Linked DNA regions of Homo sapiens: region 1 is linked to region 2. Evidence: fine-mapped expression QTL. Tissue or cell type: whole blood. Region 2 holds a variant in brackets; the other region holds the start of a gene. All regions are shown on one strand. Distances are from middle to middle.

The links. PIP is the estimated chance that this variant, and not a neighbour inherited with it, causes the effect.
Region 1: CYP2D6 starts here. The variant in region 2 is fine-mapped to the expression of CYP2D6 in whole blood (TOPMed, PIP above 0.99).

Annotation. Positions count from the first base shown.
Region 1 is chr22:42,126,984-42,135,128 of GRCh38, forward strand. CYP2D6 (cytochrome P450 family 2 subfamily D member 6 (gene/pseudogene)) reads right to left here and starts at 3,827. Exons shown (of 9, transcript NM_000106.6): 1 at 3,629-3,827; 2 at 2,755-2,926; 3 at 2,050-2,202; 4 at 1,801-1,961; 5 at 1,191-1,367; 6 at 859-1,000; 7 at 464-651; 8 at 1-9. The coding sequence starts at 3,808. RefSeq lists promoters at 3,833-4,299, 3,886-5,418 and a cis regulatory region at 5,112-5,123.
Region 2 is chr22:42,203,024-42,211,208 of GRCh38, forward strand. It overlaps TCF20 (transcription factor 20), which reads right to left. Exons shown (of 6, transcript NM_001378418.1): 2 at 6,628-8,185. Among named protein-coding and RNA genes, the nearest start is that of TCF20, 64 kb to the right of the region's middle. The variant G/A (reference allele first, on the strand shown) is at 4,559.

The DNA.
Region 1 (8,145 bases), 76 kb before region 2:
TGTCGTTCCCTGGGCAGGAGATGCAGGGTGAGAGTGGGGACTGGACTCTAGGATGCTGGGACCCCTGCCACCAAACACACGGGGGACACACACTGCCTGGCACACAGCTGGACTCTGTCAACTAGTCCTGCGCCCGAGAAGCTCCACAGTACCCTCTCCGACCCCACAGCAGGGCGCAGTCACACCTCTCAGAGGCACCCACACTGCCCCCTCTCCCTGCAGGCGTTGGGTCCTCCAACATTCTGGCAGGTCCTGGTTTGTCTCCCCACTAGACGGGGGCTCTGGATGGACAGGCCAGCCCTGCCTATACTCTGGACCCCCCACCCAAGTGGGGACAGTCAGTGTGGTGGCATTGAGGACTAGGTGGCCAGGGTTCCTAGAGTGGGCCCACCTGGCAGTAGCCATGCTGGGGCTATCACCAGGTGCTGGTGCTGAGCTGGGGTGAGGAGGGCGCCAGGCCTACCTTAGGGATGCGGAAGCCCTGTACTTCGATGTCACGGGATGTCATATGGGTCACACCCAGGGGGACGATGTCCCCAAAGCGCTGCACCTCATGAATCACGGCAGTGGTGTAGGGCATGTGAGCCTGGTCACCCATCTCTGGTCGCCGCACCTGCCCTATCACGTCGTCGATCTCCTGTTGGACACGGCCTGGACAGACATGCGTCCCCACAATGGGTCAGCACCCAGGGGGTCCGGCCCTGACACTCCTTCTTGCCTCCTATGTTGGAGGAGGTCAGGCTTACAGGATCCTGGTCAAGCCTGTGCTTGGAGCCCCGGGTGTCCCAGCAAAGTTCATGGGCCCCCGCCTGTACCCTTCCTCCCTCGGCCCCTGCACTGTTTCCCAGATGGGCTCACGCTGCACATCCGGATGTAGGATCATGAGCAGGAGGCCCCAGGCCAGCGTGGTCGAGGTGGTCACCATCCCGGCAGAGAACAGGTCAGCCACCACTATGCGCAGGTTCTCATCATTGAAGCTGCTCTCAGGGTTCCCCTTGGCCTGAGCAGGGCCGAGAGCATACTCGGGACAGAACGGGGTAGCCCCCAAATGACCTCCAATTCTGCACCTGTCAGCCCAGATGCGGCTCGCCGGGTGATGCACTGGTCCAACCTTTTGCCCAGCCTCCCCTCATTCCTCCTGGGACGCTCAACCCACCACCCTTGCCCCCCACCGTGGCAGCCACTCTCACCTTCTCCATCTCTGCCAGGAAGGCCTCAGTCAGGTCTCGGGGGGGCTGGGCTGGGTCCCAGGTCATCCTGTGCTCAGTTAGCAGCTCATCCAGCTGGGTCAGGAAAGCCTTTTGGAAGCGTAGGACCTTGCCAGCCAGCGCTGGGATATGCAGGAGGACGGGGACAGCATTCAGCACCTACACCAGACAGAACGGGGTCTCAATCCCTCCTGTGCTCTGCGTTCACCTGGACAAGTCTCAGGCCCCAGCCATCTCCAGGTAGACCCAGGGCCTGCCTGTCCTTACCACTGACCTCACCAAGTCCCTCCCCAAGTGCCAGCCTCCACCCTCTCTCCTTGCCCAGAGGAGAAACCTAAAATCGAAATCTCTGACGTGGATAGGAGGTACAGAGTCCTTGGCCTCTCCTGGTGCCCCCTGACCCGGGCACACCTCTCCCACGACCATGTCTGAGATGTCCCCTCCTCCTCCAGGCCCTTCTTACAGTGGGGTCTCCTGGAATGTCCTTTCCCAAACCCATCTATGCAAATCCTGCTCTTCCGAGGCCCCAGTCCAGCCCCGGCACCTCTCGGGAGCTCGCCCTGCAGAGACTCCTCGGTCTCTCGCTCCGCACCTCGCGCAGAAAGCCCGACTCCTCCTTCAGTCCCTCCTGAGCTAGGTCCAGCAGCCTGAGGAAGCGAGGGTCGTCGTACTCGAAGCGGCGCCCGCAGGTGAGGGAGGCGATCACGTTGCTCACGGCTTTGTCCAAGAGACCGTTGGGGCGAAAGGGGCGTCCTGGGGGTGGGAGATGCGGGTAAGGGGTCGCCTTCCCCGTCCCCCGCCTTCCCAGTTCCCGCTTTGTGCCCTTCTGCCCATCACCCACCGGAGTGGTTGGCGAAGGCGGCACAAAGGCAGGCGGCCTCCTCGGTCACCCACTGCTCCAGCGACTTCTTGCCCAGGCCCAAGTTGCGCAAGGTGGACACGGAGAAGCGCCTCTGCTCGCGCCACGCGGGCCCATAGCGCGCCAGGAACACCCCTGGGGGTGGGACGGGCACGTGCGCGTGGCCATGAAGGCATTAGCCCCACCATCCACCACCCACTCCAACCCTATGCTCCCCCTGGTCTCCCGCAGTCCCTGGCTCTGTCCAGCTGGTCACAGGGCCCACTCTTTGTGCATCCACCTTGCTCCCTTGGCTGGGGCAGGGCTTTGCCCCACCTCGTCTCTGCCCACCCTGACCGCCTTTGCACTCAGGGAAGACCCCGCGGGCCCCGCGCCACCCACACTGAGCTTACAGCACAGGTGCGGTCCCCGCCCCCCACTTCGACACCGGATTCCAGCTGGGAAATGCGCCAGCCTCACCCATTGGGCTCCTGCCAGGTCTCGGCAGTGGCCCCGCCCACTCGTCACAAGCCCCGCCCTCGTCCCCATGCTCACACCTCCCTAGTGCAGGTGGTTTCTTGGCCCGCTGTCCCCACTCGCTGGCCTGTTTCATGTCCACGACCCCGCGCCCTCTCTGCCCAGCTCGGACTACGGTCATCACCCACCCGGGTCCCACGGAAATCTGTCTCTGTCCCCACCGCTGCTTGCCTTGGGAACGCGGCCCGAAACCCAGGATCTGGGTGATGGGCACAGGCGGGCGGTCGGCGGTGTCCTCGCCGTGGGTCACCAGCGCCTCGCGCACGGCCGCCAGCCCATTGAGCACGACCACCGGCGTCCAGGCCAGCTGCAGGCTGAACACGTCCCCGAAGCGGCGCCGCAACTGCAGAGGGAGGGTCAGGGCCTCTTGTCAAGCCAGGATCACCCCAGACTACAGGTCCTAGTCCTATTTGAACCTTGGACGACCCCCGGGGCTACCAGGAGTGAGCAGGTGGAAGGAGGAGACCCAGCCTCCTGATCGTGGGGCGGGGGTGGGGGTCACACCTTCTGTGATGGAGGAACTCAGTTTGGATGCGTCACCCAGGTATGACCTTGCAAGAGTCACCAAAATTGCCGAGAGGCCCCAGTTAGCATCCCATTCCCAGATGATGGTCCATGCCGGTGAGCAGTGAGGCCCGAGGACCCACAGTGCAAAAGGTTTGAACCGGGTCACTGCACCCCCTTCATCCTCGATTTCGTGATTTAAACGGCACTCAGGACTAACTCATCTTCCATTCCCAAGGCCTTTCCTTCTGGTGTCAGCAGAAGGGACTTTGTACTCCATAACATATGTTGCCCAATGGGCTTGCATGCCCACTGCCAAGTCCAGCTCCACCTCCAGGCCCTTGCCCTACTCTTCCTTGGCCTTTGGAAAATCCAGTCCTTCATGCCATGTATAAATGCCCTTCTCCAGGACGTCCCCCAAACCTGCTTCCCCTTCTCAGCCTGGCTTCTGGTCCAGCCTGTGGTTTCACCCACCATCCATGTTTGCTTCTGGTAGGGGAGCCTCAGCACCTCTGCCGCCCTCCAGGACCTCCTCCCTCACCTGGTCGAAGCAGTATGGTGTGTTCTGGAAGTCCACATGCAGCAGGTTGCCCAGCCCGGGCAGTGGCAGGGGGCCTGGTGGGTAGCGTGCAGCCCAGCGTTGGCGCCGGTGCATCAGGTCCACCAGGAGCAGGAAGATGGCCACTATCACGGCCAGGGGCACCAGTGCTTCTAGCCCCATACCTGCCTCACTACCAAATGGGCTCCTCTGGACACACCTGGCACCCCCACCCCACCAGGCACAGAGGACCAGGCAGGACACTCTCAGCACACCGAGCGCGTGACCCTTCCCTTATAAAGGGAGCTGATGATGGCCTTTGCCCTCTGCTGTGAGTGAACCTGCTGTGTTGACTGTGCTGCCAGTGGCAGAGTCAGGCCAGGGCGGGTATGGGCTGCTCCAGAGGTTCTTGCCCCTGCTTCCTGCTCCAGGCCCTTACCCAGGGTAGGCCGGTGGAGGGGCCTGGTCGGAGAAGTCACCCCCTCTCCCCACTCCAAGCTCCTGAAGCCTGCAAAGCCTTCTGGGATAACCAGGGTTTCAGTGGACCCGGCCATCCACCTCCCAGCTAGGCTCATACACCCTAATGTAGTCACAACCCCTCCTCCAGAACATGGCCTTGCCCTTTCCCTACCCCCACCTGCCCACTCCAGAGTGACCTTCAGCACCCTTATCTGTCACTGGCACTTACCTGGGGCCTTAGAGCTCCTGATGATGAGTGGCATCATGGGCCTGGTCCCTTCACTTCACCTTGCACTCTTGACATGCACAGACGCTATGCACACACCTGATGGTGCACAGATCTCTTGTCCACTCCCAGACACTTGTCCACTTGTTCACACTTGCAGGGACACGATTACACACGCAGAAAATCACCCACACAAAGACAATATTCACACATACACAGACTCACACTGACACTTAGGGCACACATTCTCTCTCACACACACCAGTCACACACACATACAGACCCGGCACCAAGTACCCCACTTCCCAGCCATGCCGGAGGTTTCCTGGATGGGACCACTCCTGTCCAGAGGCTGCTCCCAGCCCAGCCCACATTCCTGGGCTCTGGCCGGGCTATGGCTTCTTGTTTGCAACAGGGCTGTTCCCAGAGCTCCCAGTTGGTAGCCGGAAGGCCCTTGCCCCAGCCTGTGACAACATCCTCCCGGGCTGCCTGAGGGTCGTCCTCCTCCACTGCTTTCTGGCCTCCATGTTTCTGATTAGAAATCTGGTGGGAACGTTATGGAGGATCCTTTGTTCAGGATATGTTGCTTTATTTTTTTTTTCTTTAGACAGGGTCTCACTCTGTTGCCCAGGCCGGAGTGCAGTGGCAGGATCATGGCTCACTGCAGTCTCGACATCAAGTGGACCCCCTGCCTCCCAAGTAGCTGGGACTACAGGCACCACCCAGCCTAATTCTTTTTTTTTTTTTTTTTTTTTTGGAGACGGAGATTTCCTCTTGTTGCCCAGGCTGGTGGCTCCCCTCCATTGTGCAATGATGCAATCTCGGCTCACTACAACCTTCACCTCTAGGCTTCAAGCAATTCTCCTGCCTCAGCCTCCTAAGTAGCTGGGATTACAGGTGTGTGCCACCACGTCTAGCTTTTTGTATTTTCAGTAGAGATAGGGTTTCACCATGTTGGCCAGGCTAGTCTTGAACTCCTGACTTCAGGTGATCCACCCACCTCAGGCTCCCAAAGTGCTGGGATTATAGGCATGAGCCACCGCACCCAATCCCAGCTAATTTTGTATTTTTTGTAGAGACCGGGTTCTTCCAAGTTGTCCAGGCTGGTCTTGAATTCCTGGGGTGAAGCGATCCTCCCACCTGGGCCTCCCAAAGTGCTGGGATTACAGGCCTGAGCCACTGTGACTACCTGATACGTCTCTTCTCTCTTGCTGCTTTCAAAATCCTGTCTTTTGTGGGAGGGCAGCTGCCGAGCTCTGGACTTCTACGGGATCATCCACTGAGGACAGGAGGACCGGGCCCTCTACAGGTGGATTGTATGGCAGCTGCCATGCTTGGAGCCAGTGCTCACCGAGCACGTGGCGGCTGTGGAGCTGGACGCGGGGTTGATAAGTCCGCTGGGGGTGACGGGCTCATCCATGAGTGGTACTTGATGTGGCTGCAGAAGGCGGATGTGGTGGTGGCAGAAGTGACACAACTGTCCCTGGGTATAGGCTATGATCTGTGCCAGGCCACAGCCCTCAATAAGTGAATCCTGTGCCTGCTCCAGCCGCAGTCTGGTGGAGTGCTGTCGGCCATGATCTGGGAAGAGGCAGATGGCTCTGGGTTCCAGGTGTGGGACTACGGAGAGGGACAGGTGGAGGCCCTGCTGCATGGATAGGTTGAGGCTGATCCTCCCGAGCAGGTTGCCTCCCCTAACCCAACCATTGGACCTAATCCCATTTTATTAAATTCTTCTCATCCCAGACACTGCTCTAGTACCAGTCCTGGCTCTTTGCCCCAGGAGCAAATTAAAAGGTACATTTAAAATTCTAAAAAAAGAAAAATCTGTCTTTTGACAGTGATTATGATGATGCGTATGGCTGAAGATCTCTTTGAGTTTACCCTACTTGGAGTTTGATGAGCTTTTTGGATGTACAGATTAATATTTTTCATCAGATTTGGGAGGTTTTTCAGCCATTAATTCTTCAACTATTCCTTTACTCCTTTCTCCCTGTCTTCTTTCCTGGGACTCCCATTGCGTGTATGTCGGAAAGCTTGACGGCGTCTCCAGGTCTCTGGATCTCTGTGCATTGCTCTTCATGCTTGTTCCTGTTCCTCAGAGGGTACTACCTCAGGTGGCCTCTCTCCATAGTCACAGGCTCTTTCTTCCAATTGTTCCAATCTGCTCTTGGGCCCCTGGGATGAATTTTCATTTATTTTACCCTACAACTCCAGAATTTTTATTTGGTTCCTTTTTAAACTTTTTTTTTGTTTTTTGTTTTGTTTTGTTTTTTGGAGTATCGCTCTGTCACCCAGGCTGTAGTGCAGTGGTGCAATCTCGGCTCACTGCAATCTCTGCCTCTCGGGTTCAAGCGATTCTCCTGCCTCAGCCTCCCGAGTAGCTGGGATTACAGGCACGTGCCACCACGCCCGGCTAATTTTTGTATTTTAAGTAGAGACGGGGTTTCACCATGTTGGCCAGGCTGGTCTCAATCTCTTGACCTCATGATATGCCCGCCTCAGCCTCCCAAAGTGCTGGGATTATAGGCATGAGCCACCATGCCCAGCCCCTTTTTATAAGGTTCATCCCATTATTGATATTCTCTAATTGGTGAGACATTGTTCCCACACTTTCGTTAGTTCTTTTGACATGGTTCTTTTCTTTTTCTTGGGAGAGGGTCTCTCTGTCGCCCAAGCTGGAGTGCAGTGATGCAGTCATGGCTCACTGCAGCCTCAACTTCCTGGGCTGAAGTGATCCTCCTACCTCAGCATCCTGAGAGGCTGGGACCATAGGCAGCCAGCTAATTTTTTAAATTTTTTTGTAGAGATGGGGGTCTCACCACATTTCCCAAGCTGCTCTCAAACTCCTGGGCTCAAGCAATCCACGGGCCTCAGCTTCCCAGAGTGCTAGGATTATAGGTGTGAGCCACTGCACCAGGCCTACACGTGGTTTCTCCCTTTGAAGTACTAGCCAGGCCTGACCATGCTTAGCTTCCGAGATCAGCAGGTTCCAGCCGGTGCAGCCTCAGATGCAGCATGTTTTAGGTCTTTGAACATATTTAAATGAGCTGACTGAACGTCTTTGTCTAGCAATTGCAGCATCGGGCTGGTCCCATTGGTGACTTTTCCCGTGTCTGGGTCGTCCTTTCGGTTTCCTTTCCATGTCTCATAATTTGTTAAAACCTGGACATTTCACGGGCGATAATGTGGCAACTCCGGAAGTCAGATTCTCTTCCCTGCCAAGGATGTGTTGTTGTTGTTGCCTGTTGGAGCTGTTTCTTTGCTGGGTGACTTTTCTGAACTAATTCTGACTAAGCATTAATGTCTCCATTCCCTGCGAGCTGTGGCCACTGAAGCCGCTCTTCAGTTACGGCAGTGGTCAGCTAATGACTGGTCAGAGAGTTCCTTAGGTGCCTGGAAGCGAAGTCTTTGCCGAGTGGGTCTCTCTCTGTGTGCCGGGCGTGGCTTCAGTGCTCGGCTAGGCAGTGCTCAACTTTCCCTTAGCCGTCACCTGCTGTCTGCACAGCACCTCAGGTCAGTCACGTGTGAGGGCTCAGGGCCTTGCCGGCCTTCCTGAATATGGGCACAGCTGCAGACAGCCTTACCCACGTGCAGGGCACCTAGATTCCCAAGAAGGGGCAAGAGCTGTTCAAAACCACTACAAGCTGGACATGGTGGCTCACACCTGTAGTGTCAGTGACTCAGAAGGCTGTAATGGGAGGATGACTTGAGGCCAGGAGTTTGAGACCTAGCAAGACCCCATCCCCCACCCAAAAAAACAAAAACAACAAAAACTCACTGTGGACCGCTCATGCCCCAGCTGCTGCTTTTTAACCCCAGCTGTTATCCATCA
Region 2 (8,185 bases):
TTTAACAGATTAGCAATAACTAGTTTAACATCCCAGGGATGAGTAATTAACATATAATAACTTGTGTGTTGTGGCTTGTTTATCAATATTTTTGTTTATGGTCCTTTGGGATTTTTTTGAATATTTTTCTCTACTTATTTATTTTGAGACTAGGTCATTAAGACTGGCTAATTTTCGTATTTTTGGTAGAGACAGGGTTTCTCCATGTTGCCCAGGCTGGTCTCAAACTCCTGGGCTCAGGTAATCCAAAGTGCTAGGATTACAAGCATAAGCCACCTTGCCCAGCCTTGGCCAAAGAATCGTGTACTCCTTATAAATTTTACTTTAAAATCAAGTGTAATGCTCCCCACATCATCCCCCTACCTCTAGAGAGAAAAAAAAAGTCAAGAAATAAATCGTAGTAAAATTTGAGTCCTTCAATTTGTCATGATTTATTCTGTAAGGTAATATATGCAATAAAATTCAAAACTGAAAATTTCACTTGATTCCTTAGAATTTGGACGAAATCCTGAAAGAAAATGAACCTTTTCTCTGGAAATTTAGTGTCAATGTCATCATGCAGTGATATAAAAAGATATACCACACAGTGTTAAGAAAAACAGGTAAATTAGATACAAGTCTCTGCTATATACTGAAAGCCATGGGAACAGGGCGCCACCGCCTAGAGAGTGAGAAATGAAGATGGGTCCCAGCAGAAGTAACAAAAAGCAAGTGCTTGCCAGAGAGAGGGGGCTGGGAGGGAGAGGAGAATGGAGAAAGGGAGTGTGGGAATGTGAGAAAGGGCAGTTGTAGCAAGCACAGAGGAAGAACAATCAGGTAGGGGTGGGGGTGAGGTACTGGAGTTAGGAGCAGAGAACAGGAGTTGAAGGGAGCCTTCACCAGGATGGGGGCCTTGCCAGGCCCTGGAAATGACCACCTTCAAGGAACATATAGTTGAGAATTTAGAGAGCATGTAGACTGGTGGCTCTATTTTACAGTTAAACTAGAGAGCCTACCTTTCTGACTTGGCTGTTTTGATGTTTTAATATGTGATTTCATTTTCATAATGTAATCAATCTATTTTATATTTTCCAAATCATGTTTTCCATCACAATTTAAAGTAAATTTAAGAAAGATGTGAGTCTGTTAGATGGGGGAAGTAAATAATTATCCATTATTTAAACTTGTATTAAAAATAAGCCCCTAAACTGGCCAGGTGCAGTGGCTCACACCTATAATCCCAGTACTTTGGGAGGCCGAGGAGGGTGGATTCCTTAAGGTCAGGAGTTCAAGGCCAGCTTGGCCAACATCCTCAAATCCCGTCTCTACTAAAAATACAAAAATTAGCTGGGTGTGGTGGCACGCACCTGTAATTCCAGCTACTGGGGAGGCTGAGACAGGAGAATCACTTGAATACAGGAGGCGGAGGTTGCCGTGAGCCGAGATCATGCCACTGCACTCCAGCCTGGACAACAGAGTGAGACCCTGTCTCAAAAAATCAAGGAAAAAAAACCCTAAATATAATCTTTAATATATTGATTCAGAAATTTAAAGAAAATTGGCCAGGCACAGTGGCTCAGGCCTGTAATCCCAGCACTTTGGGTGGCTGAGGCAGGTGGATCACTTGAGATCAGGAGTTTGAGATCAGCCTGGCCAACATGGTGAAACCCTGTCTCTATTAAAAATACAAAAATTAGCCAGGTGTGGTGGTGCATGACTGCAGTCCCAGTTACTTGGGAGGCTGAGGCAGGAGAGTCACTTGAACCCACGAGGAGGTGGTTGCAGTGAGCCAAGATTGTGCCACTGCACTCCAGCCTGGCAACAGAGCAAGACTCATCTCAAAATAAAAATAAAAATAGAAAATAAAAATTAACCTAAAACCAGTTAACATATACTGTCAGGTAAAAAAAAAAGATTAAAAGTTTCCCAAGGGGGGTTGGAAAAATTTGGGAGGGGCACCTTCTATGAGAGGGGAACAAGCAAAGACTCCCCGACTCCCCCACTAGTAGGGCTATCCAGCCTCAAGGGATCCATGGCCACCAGATCTACCTTCTGTCACATCCCTGCACGCCTTGGCATTCCTTAATGTCTCAAAGGTGATTTGTACATACCAAGTTATATCCATACCCATTCAGAGGCAATTACCTCTGTAATATCATTCATGTCAGAGGTCATTGTGATTCTCATACACAATTATACCAAGGCAAACAGTGGTCAATGTTGGACAGAAGCAAAGGGGACTTGTGCTGAAATGAATAGATTCACAAGTCCCACACTTGTGGGAAGGGAAAAAGGAAGGGAAAAAGGAAGGGAAGTAAACACCATTTTTAAATATAGAAATGTTCTAGTTTTCGGCAATTTTCAGAGTAGTGTGACACAGGGAGAGGAGCAATGTCTCTTGAGGACTTCCCAATATTTTAATATAACATCGTGCTTGTCAAAACACCTGATAAATACATAGGCCAAAATGGATCTCTAATGAAATATATGTGACTTTATCTTACATGATAGGATTAAGGGCATGCTCATTAAGCAAGACCAAAACTGAATGCATCTATCTGCTAAAACCTAGTAAGATAAAACTAGACTCAAAGTATCCTGGACAATTGAAACATCATCTGTCAAATTAAATAAAAGGCAAGTTAGTGTAATTTTAATTTGTCCTTGAGTGCACTGAGAAAAGTAGAATAAAAGCTAGGTAAATAAAAGCTAGAAACGGATCTTATAGTGATAGTGGTACATCAGCTCAAAGAGACAACAAGCCTAACTTTTTTCTTATTTTTTTTAGAGATTGAATCCCACTCAGTCGCCCAGGCTAGAGTGCAGTGGCACCATCTTGGCTCACTGCAACCTCCGTCTCCTAGGCTCAAGCCATTCTCCTGCCTCAGCCTCCCGAGTAGCTGGGATTACAGGTGCCTGTCACCATGTCCAGCTAATTTTTGCATATTTTTAGTAGACACGGGGTTTGACCATGTTGGCCAGGCTGGTCTTGAACTCCTGACCTCAGGCGATCTGCCCACCTCGGCCTCCCAAAGTGCTGGGACTACAGGCGTGAGCCATCATGCTCGGCCCAAGACCTGAATTGAGACACAGGATCTAGAGATTTGCTGGGGAAGATTTAGCCTGATTACTGATTATCAATTATTGCTATAGAACACCTAAAAGTTTACACAAAAAAACTGGGCTGAGATATGTTAATAATAAATGTTGAAATAACGAAAACACTGTCAGATGGTCACATACACATATGCACATCAAAAAGCAATAAACAGGCTGGGCGCAGTGACCCACACCTGTAATCCCAACACTCTAGGAGGTCAAGGCAGATGGATGATCTGAGGTCAGGAGTTCCAGACCAGCCTGGCCAACATGGTGAAACCCCACAACAAAGTGAGATTCTGTCTCAAAAAACAAACAACAAAAAACCCACCAAATACTGTGACTTTCCAAGGAAAGTTGGGAAGCAAGAACTCAACTTTGACAAGAGGATGATTAACGGATTATTTTGAGCGCTCAAATTTGACTAAAGAATTTTGTACTTGAGGGTCTTAAATGTTACATCCTCCTAGGATCTTTGCATTTTAAAATGTCATTGTGTATAAACTTCTTAGGGGAAGTGAATCTTCTACCTCAAACTTGGAGTTTCACCGTGATGTTAATAATGGAGACAGGGAAGGAGGCACAAAGAAAAGACCGTAATTGGGAGATAGGGGACATGATAAGAGTAAAGGGCAAGCTCCTTGCATGACTGAATTAAAATGTTCTAATTTCAAATATATATTTCACATTCAATATAATTTTTACTATAGTCTATGGGCACTTCTTTTTGCCAGAAGGTTATAAATAATATGGTAGACTACTAAACATACAGTTGTACATCCATCTGATCCCTTCCCACGAAAAAGTGGATAAACTTGCAAGATAAACTCATGACACCATGAGCAATGGGAAGCTGGAAACATGAGAGATGAAGTGAGTGACAGTGATTCTGTGCACTGCAAGGAAGCAGACAGTAATGATGAGTGCAGTGGAGGAGCCCCCAGAAAGCCAGCCACTTTAGGGCACAGAGCTTGGGGAGGCCTCAGTAAGTGGGGGTGCAACATGGGGCTGAAAAATAGAGCATTAGCCCAAAGTTTCTAAGAGGAGTTAGATCCTTAACCCAGTTCAACCAGGTAACTGTTCTCATCCACTGAAAACAGGCGGGAGATTGTCAAAGTCCGCGCACTGAATCATGAGCCCATATCCCCACCCACACAACCCTACCATCCTCTTCTCCACTTGGCTTTTAGGACGCTGGCAGCCAAGCTTGCATCTCTAGACAGGAAATCTCAAGATTTTTCTCTGGAACAAAAAAAAAAATGTTTTTTTTTCCTCTGGGAAAACTCAACTCAGAAAAAAGACCCATATGCTGGCTGGCTGCCTTATTATTCTACGGAGAGGACTACAGGCTAGCAAGCCTGGCCCATACTGTAACAGAGAGCTTCAAGTCATTTTTTAAAACATCTCTTTCTCTCTTAAAAATATAAATCAAGGCTGGGTGCAGTGGCTCAAGCCTGTAATCCCAGCACTTTGGGAGGCC[G/A]AGGTGGGCGGATCACCTGAGGTCAGGAGCTCGAGACCAGACTGACCAACGTGGAGAAACCTCATGTCTTCTAAAAATACAAAATTAGCTGTGCATGGTGGCGCATGCCTCTAATCCCAGCTACTCAGGAGGCTGAGGCAAGAGAATCGCTTGAACCTGGGAAGCGGAGGTTGCGGTGAGCTGAGATTGCGCCATTGCACTCCAGCCTGGGCAACAAGAGCGAAACCCCATCTCAATAAAGAAAAAAAAATCAAGACATCTGAAGAACCTCTAACAAGAAAGAGAAAATAGGAAACAGACAAAGATTTTTAAAAATTATAGTACAGGCCAAGTGTAGTGGCTCACGCCTGTAATTCCAGCACTTTGGAAGGCTGACGTGGGAGGATTGCTTAAGCTCAGGTGGTGAGACCAGCCTGCCTGGGCAACAAAGTGAGATGCTGTCTCTACAAAAAGTAAAAAACTTAGCCAGGTGTACTGGCATGCACCTGTGGTCCAGCTACTTGGGAGGATCCCTTGAGCCCAGTGGTTGGAGGCTGCAGTGAGCCATCATCACATCACTGCACTCCAGCCTGGGTAAGGGCATGAAACTGAAACAAAAACAAAAACAAAAAATACGTTATAATGTATTCAAAAAGCAAGAGAAACGATTATAGCCATCAACTAGGCTCTGATTATTCTTTAAAAGTCAGTACATTCAGAGAAAAAAAAAGCTCTTCAAAATATCAAGAAAAAAAATAAGTAAATAAAAGGCTAGAAGGCTGGGCACTGTGGCTTGTGGCACATGCCTATAATCCTGGTACTTTAGAAGACCGAAGTGGAAGGATTGCTTGAGTCCAGCAGTTTGAGACCACTCTGGGCAACACAGTGAGACCTTGTTTCTGCAAAAAATATAAATATTAGCTGGGCATGGTGGCACACACCTTTAGTCCCAGGTACCAGGGAGCCCCAGAGTTCGAGAATGCAGTAAGCTGTGATCGCACCACTGCATTCCAGCCTGAGTGACAACAAAACAAAACAAAACAAAACAAAACCAAAACAAAACCCACATACAAAAAAGATTAGATGATAAAGCTGAAGAAAGCATAGAGAAATCAGAACAAAAAGATAATGAGATAAAACATAAAACAGAGGAGAAAAGATAAAAACAGCGGATCAATCCAGGAGGTAAAATGCCTTATATTAACAGGAATTATAAAGAGAGCAGAGAAAATAGAGGGAAGGAAATTTTCAAAGAACTACCACATGACAAATTGCCTGAACTGAAAGACATCAGCGTACATAAGATCTCATAGAGTAGCCAACACAACCATGAAATGACCTAGTCAAGACCTATCATTTTGACATCTCAAGACCCTAGGGAAAAGGAGAAGATCCTCAAACTTTCCAGAAGAAAAACAGAACATGCATCAAGGGATGAAAAATTAGAATGGCAGTCTTCTCAACTGCAGCACTGGAAGCTAGTGGACAAACCAGGAAGAACGACTGCAAGACAGTGAGAGAAAAATCACTTCCAATCTAGAATTCCACACCTAGCCAACTCTCAATTAAGCATGAGGCTAGGATAAAGTCATGCTCAGATATATAGGATCTCAACATTTTTACACTCCCACACACCCTTTCTCACAAAACTACTAAAGGATGATGCACGCCCTTAAATGAAGGCTCACTTTAAGAATGAGGAAGAAATGGGATTCAGGAAACAGAACATTCAATAGAGGAGAGAAAGAAATGAAGATGATGATGTTGATGATCTGCCCCAGGATAAGTTATGAAACAGATCCAAAGAATAAATATCCTAACTGGAAAGTGTGCGTTAGAAAAGATGTGGCCCAAGAAACTTGAAATATAATAATATGCTTCATAAGCATTATACATTTCAAAAAATGAAAAACGATTTTAGAAGTCTATACAAATCTTCCAAATTACCTATTTCATTTTCTGTCCATCACATGGGCATAGGCACTTTAATTTGGAGGAATAATCATGTGACATGTAAGAACAAAAACATGCAAGAAAAGGAACCAAATGAAATAAAAATCCCAAGCTGGTAAGAGATTTCTCATACTCACCATCTCTCTGGCTATTTCCAGCGCTTCCTGCAGGCCATAGAGCCTGCCACAAACCAGGTAGATTCCATTGGCCCAGAGAATACAACCCTCATGGACCCAAAATTCATTGCTGTCAAGAGGTAGTTCAGGGATTTGTAACTCCAGCTCAGGGCCACCTTCTGAAGTGGTGGGCACGGAGGGCTTCGAGTCCAAAACAGTCTTTTCACTGCTGCCCTCAGTGGCTGCTTTTTTACAAGGGAGCCCCCTGGACAGGGACCGAGGGCCTCCACCACAGTCTTCCGAGCGGTGGCGCCGCTTAAACCTGGGGTGTGCGGCCAGGCTTCTCTGCTCCTTCTGCTGCTGCTGCTGCTCTTCCTCCTCCTCAGTGTCCGTCTTGGAGCCATTAGAAGCACTTTTGTGCCGTACCTTAACTTTGCTCTGCATTTCTGTGGCCCTCTTAGGAGGTGGATTCTTCGGGAGAGTGGCTGCATAATCTTGGGGATAAAAAGGTCCAAAGAGGTCACCCATGTTCCGGTAACTGGCCCACTTGCCACACAGACAGCAAACCAGGTGCCCCATAACCGAAGACTCTGTCACAACAGGTCCCTGCAGCATAAAGGACGAGGCCGGGAGCGCCTTGCTTTCAGTGCTGCTAGGTGGAGGGGTCAGTGACCTCTGACCCTTCCTGCCCCTCACTAATTTGGTCTGTTCTTCTTCCTCAGCATTGATGATTGTACAAACGGCTCCAAGTTCACACTTATTTACTACATGGATGTAAGGGTAAAAAGACTTGTTCTTGGCATCAGTTTTATCCAGTGGCTGGGTGGCATATTTTAGTTTGATCTCAGGTTCTTGGGGTTCCACAATGGGAACTGCTTGTTTGGTTTTTCGCTTCCTCGGCTGGGCCCCAGGCTTCCTTCTCTCCCTCCTTTGCCTCTGTTTTTTTGGCTTTGGCTCTCCATCTGCAGAACCTTCTGGTATCTGTGGGGGCTGAGGGGGTGGAGGCGGTGGCTGCTGCTGTTTCTTTTGCTTATTCACACTACCAATGGGTCTCCCCTTCTTCTTTCCTGATGGGAAATATCCCTTTGGAGGGAAACCCTCTTGCTTCGGTGAAATCGTCACTGTATCGTTCTCCTTCTCTTCAGCCTTGGGGTTTGCCTCAGGGGCCAATATGCCCACTGGAGGTACATTCTTTGAGTCTGGAAAGATTAAAGGTGCTGTTCCACCCAGGGAACCATCTGGTCTCCCTTGGTTACTACCAGGCTTCTGTGAGGTTGTGGATGTCATGGCACCAGGGGGTTCCTTTCCGGCAGTAACTGTTTCTGCATGTGTCTCTGTCTTCACTTTGTCATCCACGCTGCCACGCCACTCTTCTGAAGACCTTGGAAGAGGTTTCTCTACGTGCAACTCCTGGTTTGCTGGACTGACTAGGTCCGAAGCCACCTCACCTTTTCTCTTCTCTATGTCAGCATCCTGAACAGCAACACTCCCACCTTCAGGAGGACCACTCTTCAAAGACAGTATATCATCAAGCGTAACCGTGTCTCCCCCAGCCTCCGCACTGTTCGAAGATGCGCTC